2 separate regions of the Homo sapiens genome follow, and region 1 is linked to region 2. A link means that fine-mapping ties the variant in region 2 to the expression of a gene that starts in the linked region. Tissue or cell type: whole blood. Region 2 holds a variant in brackets; the other region holds the start of a gene. All regions are shown on one strand. Distances are from middle to middle.

Region 1 (4,374 bases), 73 kb after region 2:
TCTGGGGAATTAGTAGGTGCATTTTCTTTGAATTAGTAGGTGCATTTTCACTTCCTTTCAGTTTGGCCAATTTTAACTCACAAGGGACAACACTTTCTTAATGGACCAGACAGCACTCACCAATTTCACAAAGCAAATTGAAGTTGTAAATTAATAACTACATTAAGTTAATGTTTTATGAAGCACTTACTATTTCCTAAGTATTGGGCTAAGCATTTTATTTGCATTCATATCTCATATCTCATTTACTCCTAACAATCCTATAAGGCAGACTGCATAGTTATCTCCATTTTACAGATGGGGGAACTTAGACTAAGAGATTTCAAATAACCTGGGTGACACAGACAGTAAAGGGCAGAGCTCAGTCACAAGACGGAGCAGAAAGGGTGTCAGAGCTTATAAACACCACACGTGCCATCTTCTATTTTCAACAAAGGGTTTACCTAAGACTACGAATATTCAAATGATCGAATTTCTGAAATCGCCCCATGATGTAAATTCCCACAATTATATTAGAATTTCGAAAGCCACCTCCTCTCATTGCCTTATTTCAGAGAAGAATCTAAAACTCTATCATCTTATTCCAAAAGGAAAGGGGAGAATTAACTGCTTCCCTGAACTTCTCTGCCAGTCTTCCTTCAGTTATTTCTGTTTTCCTGCCTCTCATTTGTCTTAAACAACAGCTATTTTGTATTCATTCCGTAATTGTGAGCAGTGGTCCCAAAGGCCCCGTTGTAAGGAACTACAGAATACTGCCAGTGAATACTAGCGAGAAGGAAAAAGCACCGCAAACTTCCAACTCCATTCACAAAAATACCACAGAAATACATAATCGAACAAGCTAACTCCACTGACGGCTTTCCTGAAGCTTCAGCGGTGAAAGACACGAGCCGCCTGTCGCTTATGGAGGGCTGTCGCGGAGCGGGCTGCGATCCCGGAGTGTGGCCCCGCGTCCACGCGCACCTGCCCACCTGCGCGCTCCACCGCGGGGCAGCGGTTCAAGCCGGGAAGCCGCGAGTATTATCAGCTCAGAGGGGAGGGGTTCACAGGAACCGGGCTAGGTCCGAGGCTGCTGACAACTGGTTTACACAAAAGAAAGAAGAAATATAGGAAGTCCCCGCAGCAGTGCATGCCATGCCGACGCCGACGCGGGCGCCCAGCAGTGGGTGGAGGCGGATGCTCCCAGCGCCGGGTGCAAGGTCCCCCGCTGGCTCCCTTTCGCCAATGCGCCCGGCCCGGGACCAAGACACCGCGTCCTGAGCGCCGGCGGCGACCCCAGCTCCCCTCCCCGCGTCCCGCTCCCCGGGAGGACGCGCCGGGCGCCGCGCCGCACCTGTGCCCCACGGGGCGGCCTTGTCCCACCGCCCCTCGGAGGCGATGCTCCGGCCCGAGAGGACAGGCGCGGGCGCTTCCCTCGGGGCAGCGGGGGCAGACCTGGCGTCGCGGGGACGCCCCCAGCGCGTCAGACGCCGCGCGCCCACCTGGGGCCGTCGCCTCGCCACCGGCAACCTCACCTCCCGCCGCAGCCTCCTCTTCCGCCGCCATCGCAGGAGCCACTTGGTCGGCTCCGCAGCCCCGCGGCTGGCAGCATGGAGGAGCCCCGGGCCCGCCCTGCCCCGGCCCAGGCGGCGGCTCTGGAGCAGGGAAGCGGGGACTGGCGGGCCCTGCCGGGTGCCGCGGCGGCCGCCACCGCAGCCCGTAGGCGCGCACGGGACGCCGCCCCGCAGCCCGGCCGGCAGCAGCTACTGAGCATGCGGACTGGAGCCAGCCGCCCGCCGCTCTGGGCGCCGCGGGGCTTCCCGGCGGGAAAGAGACCCGGGCCAAGGGCGGAGTCGCTGCGGACACCGCCCCGCCGAGCCCTCCCGCGAGCAGCAAAGCACTAAAAGGCCAGTTGAGTCCTTCTAGCAACCACCCTATTGAAAACAGGCTTCCATGCTCATAGTAAGCTTTGTCCCAGCATTCCGAAGATTGCAGTTGTTAGACCCTCGGGGCAAAGGTAAAGGATGAATGAAGATAATTGCACGGTGGGTTAGCGGAGGGCACGGGGCTAGGGTTGGGGAGGAGGGTGCTGGACGAGAGACCCTGCTCTTTTCTGCTTAAGGAAGGGCTTAGCTGCAGAGACGAGAGTGTAGATGACAGAGAGAGGGTCCCGAGGAAGCCGTTTTGCCTCCTGGAACGGTTGGGTAAATCCAGAAACAAGATCTTTTGGGCATCACTTGACAGCCCTACATCCTATGGCCACGTGTCTAGAATACACTGGTTTGCTGCCCTCCCACTGGTCCCTAGACCCATTCCTTGGTAATCTAGTAGAAGTAAGTAAAGGAAAGTCACAGTAGAGAAGACACCAAATCAAACTTTGCAACCAGCCTAAAGGTAATAACTTTCCTACAAGGACTCAATTCCAACGTCTTAACCAGCACCTTATGTGTCCTCAGGGCAGTACTTAGGGCCATTGTGAGAGGCTGGGCAGAGGGTTTGGAAGTGTGTTCCCAAGCAGAAGTGGGCATGACAGGAGAAAACTGTTGCAGGCTTAAGCAGGGGCTAGGACTTTAGAGGTAAGGGAGACGTGCTGAAAACTGTGCTGTCCTCAACACACACCAAGACACATCCCTAATCAAAACCAGTCTTGAAACGTCTCATTCCTAGCTTTGACTTGGAACTCCACCCCAAATTCTACCAACACCAACTTCTCCTGGCAGCTAGAAACAGTAATTCCATACAGGGTTTCCCGAATGTGATCAAACCTTGGCTTTCCAGACAAGTGTACACTATTTTGAGGTGGTTTACCAAGGGGTAACAGGTAGAATTAATTAGACCTGGGCTTTAAGATCTGGGTTAAAATGTAAATACTATTCTATACATGGCCTTGCTTACAATGCATTTTCCCCCTTATCGGCTCAGTGAGCCTCACAACCTCTTTCTTAATTCCTGTCTTAGTAGAGAAACAGAAGTTCAGAGATGTCGAGTATTTTGGCCAGGATCACTCAGCTAGTAGATAGTAGAAGCAAGACCATAAAAGTTAGGTCTCCTTCTTAGGAGTTCCTATTGTGGTGTCCAGTAAGCTTGCCTGTGAATCATTGCAGTCCCCGTTTCTTAGAAACGATGATTCACTTCCACCAAAGCCTGAAAGCAAGAGAAGGGGAATCCAGAATCTAAAATACGAAAGCAGGAAGGGTAATAATGCACAAACAAAGCCGACCTACAGCATTCCATGGGGCACAACCCTTTCATTGCTTAATAGGTATTCCCCTTACTGCTCAGGTTTAAAGCCTGCTTGCTCTCTTTTTTTCTTTATGCTCTGGAGCTTTACTTTCTAAGACATGATTTTTTTGTTTTTTAAAGAGTAGCTATATAACCCATAGGATAAGGCAGAGAGACATATAATGTCTTGCCAGATGGATAGGAAGGTAATCTCTCATTTCCAGTGAGTGGTTTTCTCATATTTTCAACTTGGAAAAAAAAATGTGAGAAAGGTGATTGGATGATTTGTATAATAGAATGCTAGAGAATTTGTGTAATAGAATGCACACAGTTCCTTCTGGTCAGCATGGTTCCCCTGCCAAAAGCCCTGGAGCTGCCTTGCTCTCCAGGAATCATTGCTTGCCTTTCACTTAATTTGTTCATTAATTTTCTTTCATTGCTAAGTACTCAGGCAAGAACAAATATTTTAAAGGTGGAACAAATACTCCTTTGTCCATCTGGAATTAGGAACCACGGCCTCACAAGCTGTAAACTCCTGTCCTTTTAGCATTCTGCTGGGATTGTAACAATATAACTTAGATTAGAGAGGAGTCCCTAAAGCCACTTAGATATTGTATTTGGTCCAAGAACAACAACAACAACAACAACAACAACAAAAAACAACAAGATAGAACCCAAACCCAAAACAACAAAAAACCACACCTGCTTCAGAGTGTAATTAAATTGAAGATACTATTTCCAATGATGCATAACAATAAATAACACAGAAGCCAGGAAGGGGAGAGAAGAGGGGGTGGAAAACAACAAGGGGAAAAGAAGGCTGAACATATATTTATTACCATTGGGAACTGTACACTTAAAATGGTAAAGATGGTAAATAAAAAAAAAACATTACATAGGCCGGGCATGGTGGCTCACGCCTGTAATCTCAGCACTTTGGGAGGCCACGGCAGGCGGATCACGAGGTCAGGATGTGCAGACCGTCCTAGCTCACACGGTGAAACCCCGTCTCTACTAAATATACAAAAAATTAGCTGGGTGTGGTGGCGGGCACCTGTAATCCCAGCTACTCGGGAGGCTGAGGCAGGAGAATTGCTTGAACCCAGGAGGGGGAGGTTGCAATGAGCTGAGATCACGCCACTGCACTCCAGCCTGGGTGACAGAGCAAGACTC
Region 2 (4,374 bases):
AATGTTGACAGTGGGGTGTTAAAGTCTCCCATTATTATTGTGTGAGGGTCTAAGTCTCTTTGTAGGTCTCTAAGGACTTGCTTTATGAATCTGGGTGCTCCAGTATTGGGTGCATATATATTTAGGGTAGTTAGCTCTTCTTGTTGAATTGATCCCTTTACCATTATGTAATGGCCTTCTTTGTCTCTTTTGATCTTTATTGGTTTAAAGTCTGTTTTATCAGAGATTAGGATTGCAACCCCTGCCTTTTTTTGTTTTCCATTTGCTTGGTAGATCTTCCTCCATCCCTTTATTGTGAGCCTATGTTTGTCTCTGCACATGAGATGGGTCTCCTGAATACAGCACACTGATGGGTCTTGACTCTTTATACAATTTGCCAGTCTGTGTCTTTTAATTGGAGCATTTAGCCCATTTACATTTAAGGTTAATATTGTTATGTGGGAATTTGATCCTGTCATTATGATATTAGCTGGTTATTTTGCTCGTTAGCTGATGCAGTTTCTTCCTAGCCTCAATGGTTTACAATTTGGCATGTTTTTGCAGTGGCTGGTACTGGTTGTTCCTTTCCATGTTTAGTGCTTCCTTCAGGAGCTCTTGTAAGGCAGTCCTGGTGGTGACAAAATTTCTCAGCATTTGCTTGTCTGTAAAGTATTTTATTCCTCTTTCACTTATGAAGCTTAAGTTTGGCTGGATATGAACTTCTGGGTTGAAAATTCTTTTCTTTAACAATGTTGAATATTGGCCCCCACTCTCTTCTGGCCTGTAGAGTTTCTGCTGAGAGATCAGCTGTTAGTCTGATGGGCTTCCCTTTGTGGGTAACCTGACCTTTCTCTCTGGCTGCCCTTAACATTTTTTCCTTCATTTCAACTTTGGTGAATCTGACAATTATGTGTCTTAGAGTTGCTCTTCTCGAGGAGTATCTTTGTGGCGTTCTCTGTATTTCCTGAATCTGAATGTTGGCCTGCCTTGCTAGATTGGGGAAGTTCTCCTGGATAATATCCTGCAGAGTGTTTTCCAACTTGGTTCCATCCTCCCCGTCACTTTCAGGTACACCAATCAGACGTAGATTTGGTCTTTTCACATAGTCCCATATTTCTTGGAGGCTTTGTTTGTTTCTTTTTATTCTCTTTTCTCTAAACGTCTCTTCTCACTTCATTTCATTCATTTGATCTTGCATCACTGATACCCTTTCTTCCAGTTGATCGAATTGGCTACTGAGGCTTTGCATTCGTCATGTAGTTCTCATGCCGTTGTTTTCAGCTCCATCAGGTCCTTTAAGGACTTCTCTGCATTGGTTATTCTTGTTAGCCATTCATCTAATTTTTTTTTCAAGGTTTTTAACTTCTTTGCCATGGGTTCAAACTTCCTCCTTTAGCTCGGAGTAGTTTGATCATCTGAAGCCTTCTTCTCTCATCAAACTCATTCTCTGTCCAGCTTTGTTCCATTGCTGGTAAGGAGCTGCGTTCCTTTGAAGGAGGAAAGGCGCTCTGATTTTTAGAGTTTCCAGTTTTTCTGCTCTGTTTTTTCCCCATCTTTGTGGTTTTATCTACCTTTGGTCTTTGATGATGGTGACGTACAGATGGAGTTTTGGTGTGGATGTCCTTTCTGTTTGTTAGTTTTCCCTCTAACAGTCAGGACCCTCAGCTGCAGGTGTGTTGGAGTTTGCTGAAGGTCCACTCCAGACCTTGTTTGCCTGGGTATCAGCAGCGGAGGCTGCAGAACAGCGGATATTGGTGAACAGCAATTGTTGCTGCCTGATCGTTCCTCTGGAAGTTTTGTCTCAGAGGAGTACCTGGCCGTGTGAGGTGTCAGTCTTCCCCTACTGGGGGGTGCCTCCCAGTTAGGCTACTCAGGGGTCAGGGACCCACTTGAGGAGGCAGTCTGTCCATTCTCAGATCTCCAGCTGTGTGCTGGGAGAACCACTACTGTCTTCCAAGCTGTCAGACAGGGACATTTAAGTCTGCAGAGTTTTCTGCTGCCTTTTGTTTGGCTATGCCCTGCCCCCAGAGATGGAGTCTACAGAGGCAGGCAGGCTTCCTTGAGCTGCGGTGGGCTCCAACCAGTTC[G/A]AGCTTCCCGGCTGCTTTGTTTACCTACTCAAGCCTCGGCAATGGTGGGCACCCCTCCCCCAGCCTCGCTGCCGCCTTGCAGTTTGATCTCAGACTGCTGTGCTAGCAATGAGCGAGGCTCCGTGGGTGTAGGACCCTCCGAGCCAGGCATGGGATATAATCTCCTGGTGTGCTGCTTGCTAAGACCATTGGAAAAGTGCAGTGTTAGGGTGGGAGTGACCCGATTTTCCAGGTGCCCATCTGTCACCCCTTTGACTAGGAAAGGGAATTCCCTGACCCCTTGCGCTTTCCGGGTGAGGCGATGCCTCACCCTGCTTCGGCTCACGCTTGGTGCGCTGCACCCACTGTCCTGCACCCACTGTCCAACAATCCCCAGTGAGATGAACCCAGTACCTCAGCTGGAAATGCAGAAAGCACCCGTCTTCTGTGTCGCTCATGCTGGGAGCTGTAGACTGGAGCTGTTCCTATTCGGCCATCTTGGCTCCACCCGAAAAGCTTTAGTTTTATAGTTCTACTTTGAACTCTGATTTATCTGTAATTTATTTTAGTGTAAAGAATAAAGTTGGAGTCTAGCTTTATTTTTTCCCCAAATGGTTATACAGTTATCATAATGCCCTTTAATGTTTAATTCATTTCTACCTACTGATTTAAGGTGTCATTTTTAATTTTTACCATATAATAAATTTGCATGTGCATTTGATTGTATTTCTGAAATATAATCTTTTACATTGATCTATTTGTGGGTTGCACTAAAATGTTTTAGTGGTTGTAGCTTTATAACGTATTTTAATATCTGACAGCATTAGTCTCACTTTATTACTATTATTTTTCATAAATTTCTAGATATTTTAATGTGATTAGTATAATCTGTTGGATTCCAAAAAAAAAAAATGCATGGTGGTATTTTTTTTTTTTTTTTTTTGAGACAGGGTCTTGCTCTTTTGCCTAGACTGGAGTAAGTGGCAGGATCACAGCTGACTACAGCCTTGACACTGCCCCACCAGCCCCTCTCCCTCCACCCCACTCTAGTGATCCTCCCACCTTAGCCTCCCAAGTAGCTGGGACTATAGGCGTGCACCACCACATCCAGCTAATTTTTTTTTTTTTGTAGAGATGAGGTTTTGCCATGTTGCCCAGGCTTGTCTCAAATTTCTAGACTCAAGCAATCCATCTGCCTCGGCCTCCCCAAGTGCTAGGATTACAGGCATGACCCACCATGCCTGGCCACACGGTGGTATTTTGACTAGATCCACATTAAATTCACAGGCTAGTTTAAGGAACAGGACAATTCTTACAATTCTGCCTTCCTGTTGAAAAACAGCTTATATCTGAAGTTATATGAGTTATCTTTTTATATATCTTTGTGAATTTTAAAGTTTTTTTTCATGTTGGTATGAATATTTCTTATAAAATTTATATCTTTTTGTTGCTACTGTAAAGATAATATTTTCCATTATATTAAACTGGTTATCATTTGTATATAGGAAGGCTACTGATTTTTGTATATTGATTTTATAAATATGATATTTTTACTTTTGAAAATATTTGCAGCAATAAAACATTACCTCTGTAAATCCAGAATTTCATTTGCAATATCTGTTCCAATACTACCAGCACCAAGTACTGTTCCAGTAGACATTCCAGGTACACTCATACAGGACTGTCTAGAGGATTCTAAGTAACAGCAAAAGGAGAAATTCAGTTGAGGACTTTATCTTTCTTTCAATTCAAATAATTTCACAGTTCTCTCCTTAAAAGAAACAGACTAGCTGCATCCAAAAAAGTTGGAAAACACTCATCCTTGCATTACATATGTAATTCATGATGCTCTTTGAATCAAATGTGTAGAGTCACTGAGGGCACAATTGTGACTAGTAACCCTTGACTCCAGTCTCTTGCCACTTTAATCTCCACAGCAATACTACTTCAATGTTTCCTAAGATTTTTATTTTTACAAATAATACATTAATATATTCCTGTGGTGAAAAACTCACACAGATAAGCAAAAACTCCCCCAATACTTTTCGTTAATTTGTCCAAGAGTGTCACAATTGACAAGGAACAATGTTAGCTGCTAGGGCTGAAAAATGGATAAAACATCATTCCTGCCTTAAAGAACTGTCTACTGGAAAGCAAGTTGAATGAACAACTAATTGCAGTATAATGCAAGATTATAACAGAAAAGTGAGCAAAGCACTGTGGGAATTTTGAGGGGGACATGGTGATACCTCTGGGAGTTTAAATGGGATATCTATTTCCCGTTGAATTTAGTCTCTTCTAAACCAAAGTTGGGATTCCTATAACCCAA

The links. PIP is the estimated chance that this variant, and not a neighbour inherited with it, causes the effect.
Region 1: BMAL2 starts here. The variant in region 2 is fine-mapped to the expression of BMAL2 in whole blood (TOPMed, PIP 0.94).

The regions. Positions count from the first base shown.
Region 1 is chr12:27,330,244-27,334,617 of GRCh38, reverse strand. BMAL2 (basic helix-loop-helix ARNT like 2) reads right to left here and starts at 1,782. Exons shown (of 17, transcript NM_020183.6): 1 at 1,515-1,782. The coding sequence starts at 1,545. LOC124902906 (a long non-coding RNA gene) reads left to right here and starts at 1,821. Exons shown (of 2, transcript XR_007063255.1): 1 at 1,821-1,996. RefSeq lists silencers at 1,289-1,408, 1,429-1,898.
Region 2 is chr12:27,402,799-27,407,172 of GRCh38, reverse strand. BMAL2 (basic helix-loop-helix ARNT like 2) reads right to left here. Exons shown (of 17, transcript NM_020183.6): 14 at 3,632-3,740. The region is part of intron 1 of BMAL2-AS1 (BMAL2 antisense RNA 1); the gene reads left to right. Among named protein-coding and RNA genes, the nearest start is that of BMAL2-AS1, 42 kb to the left of the region's middle. The variant G/A (reference allele first, on the strand shown) is at 2,067.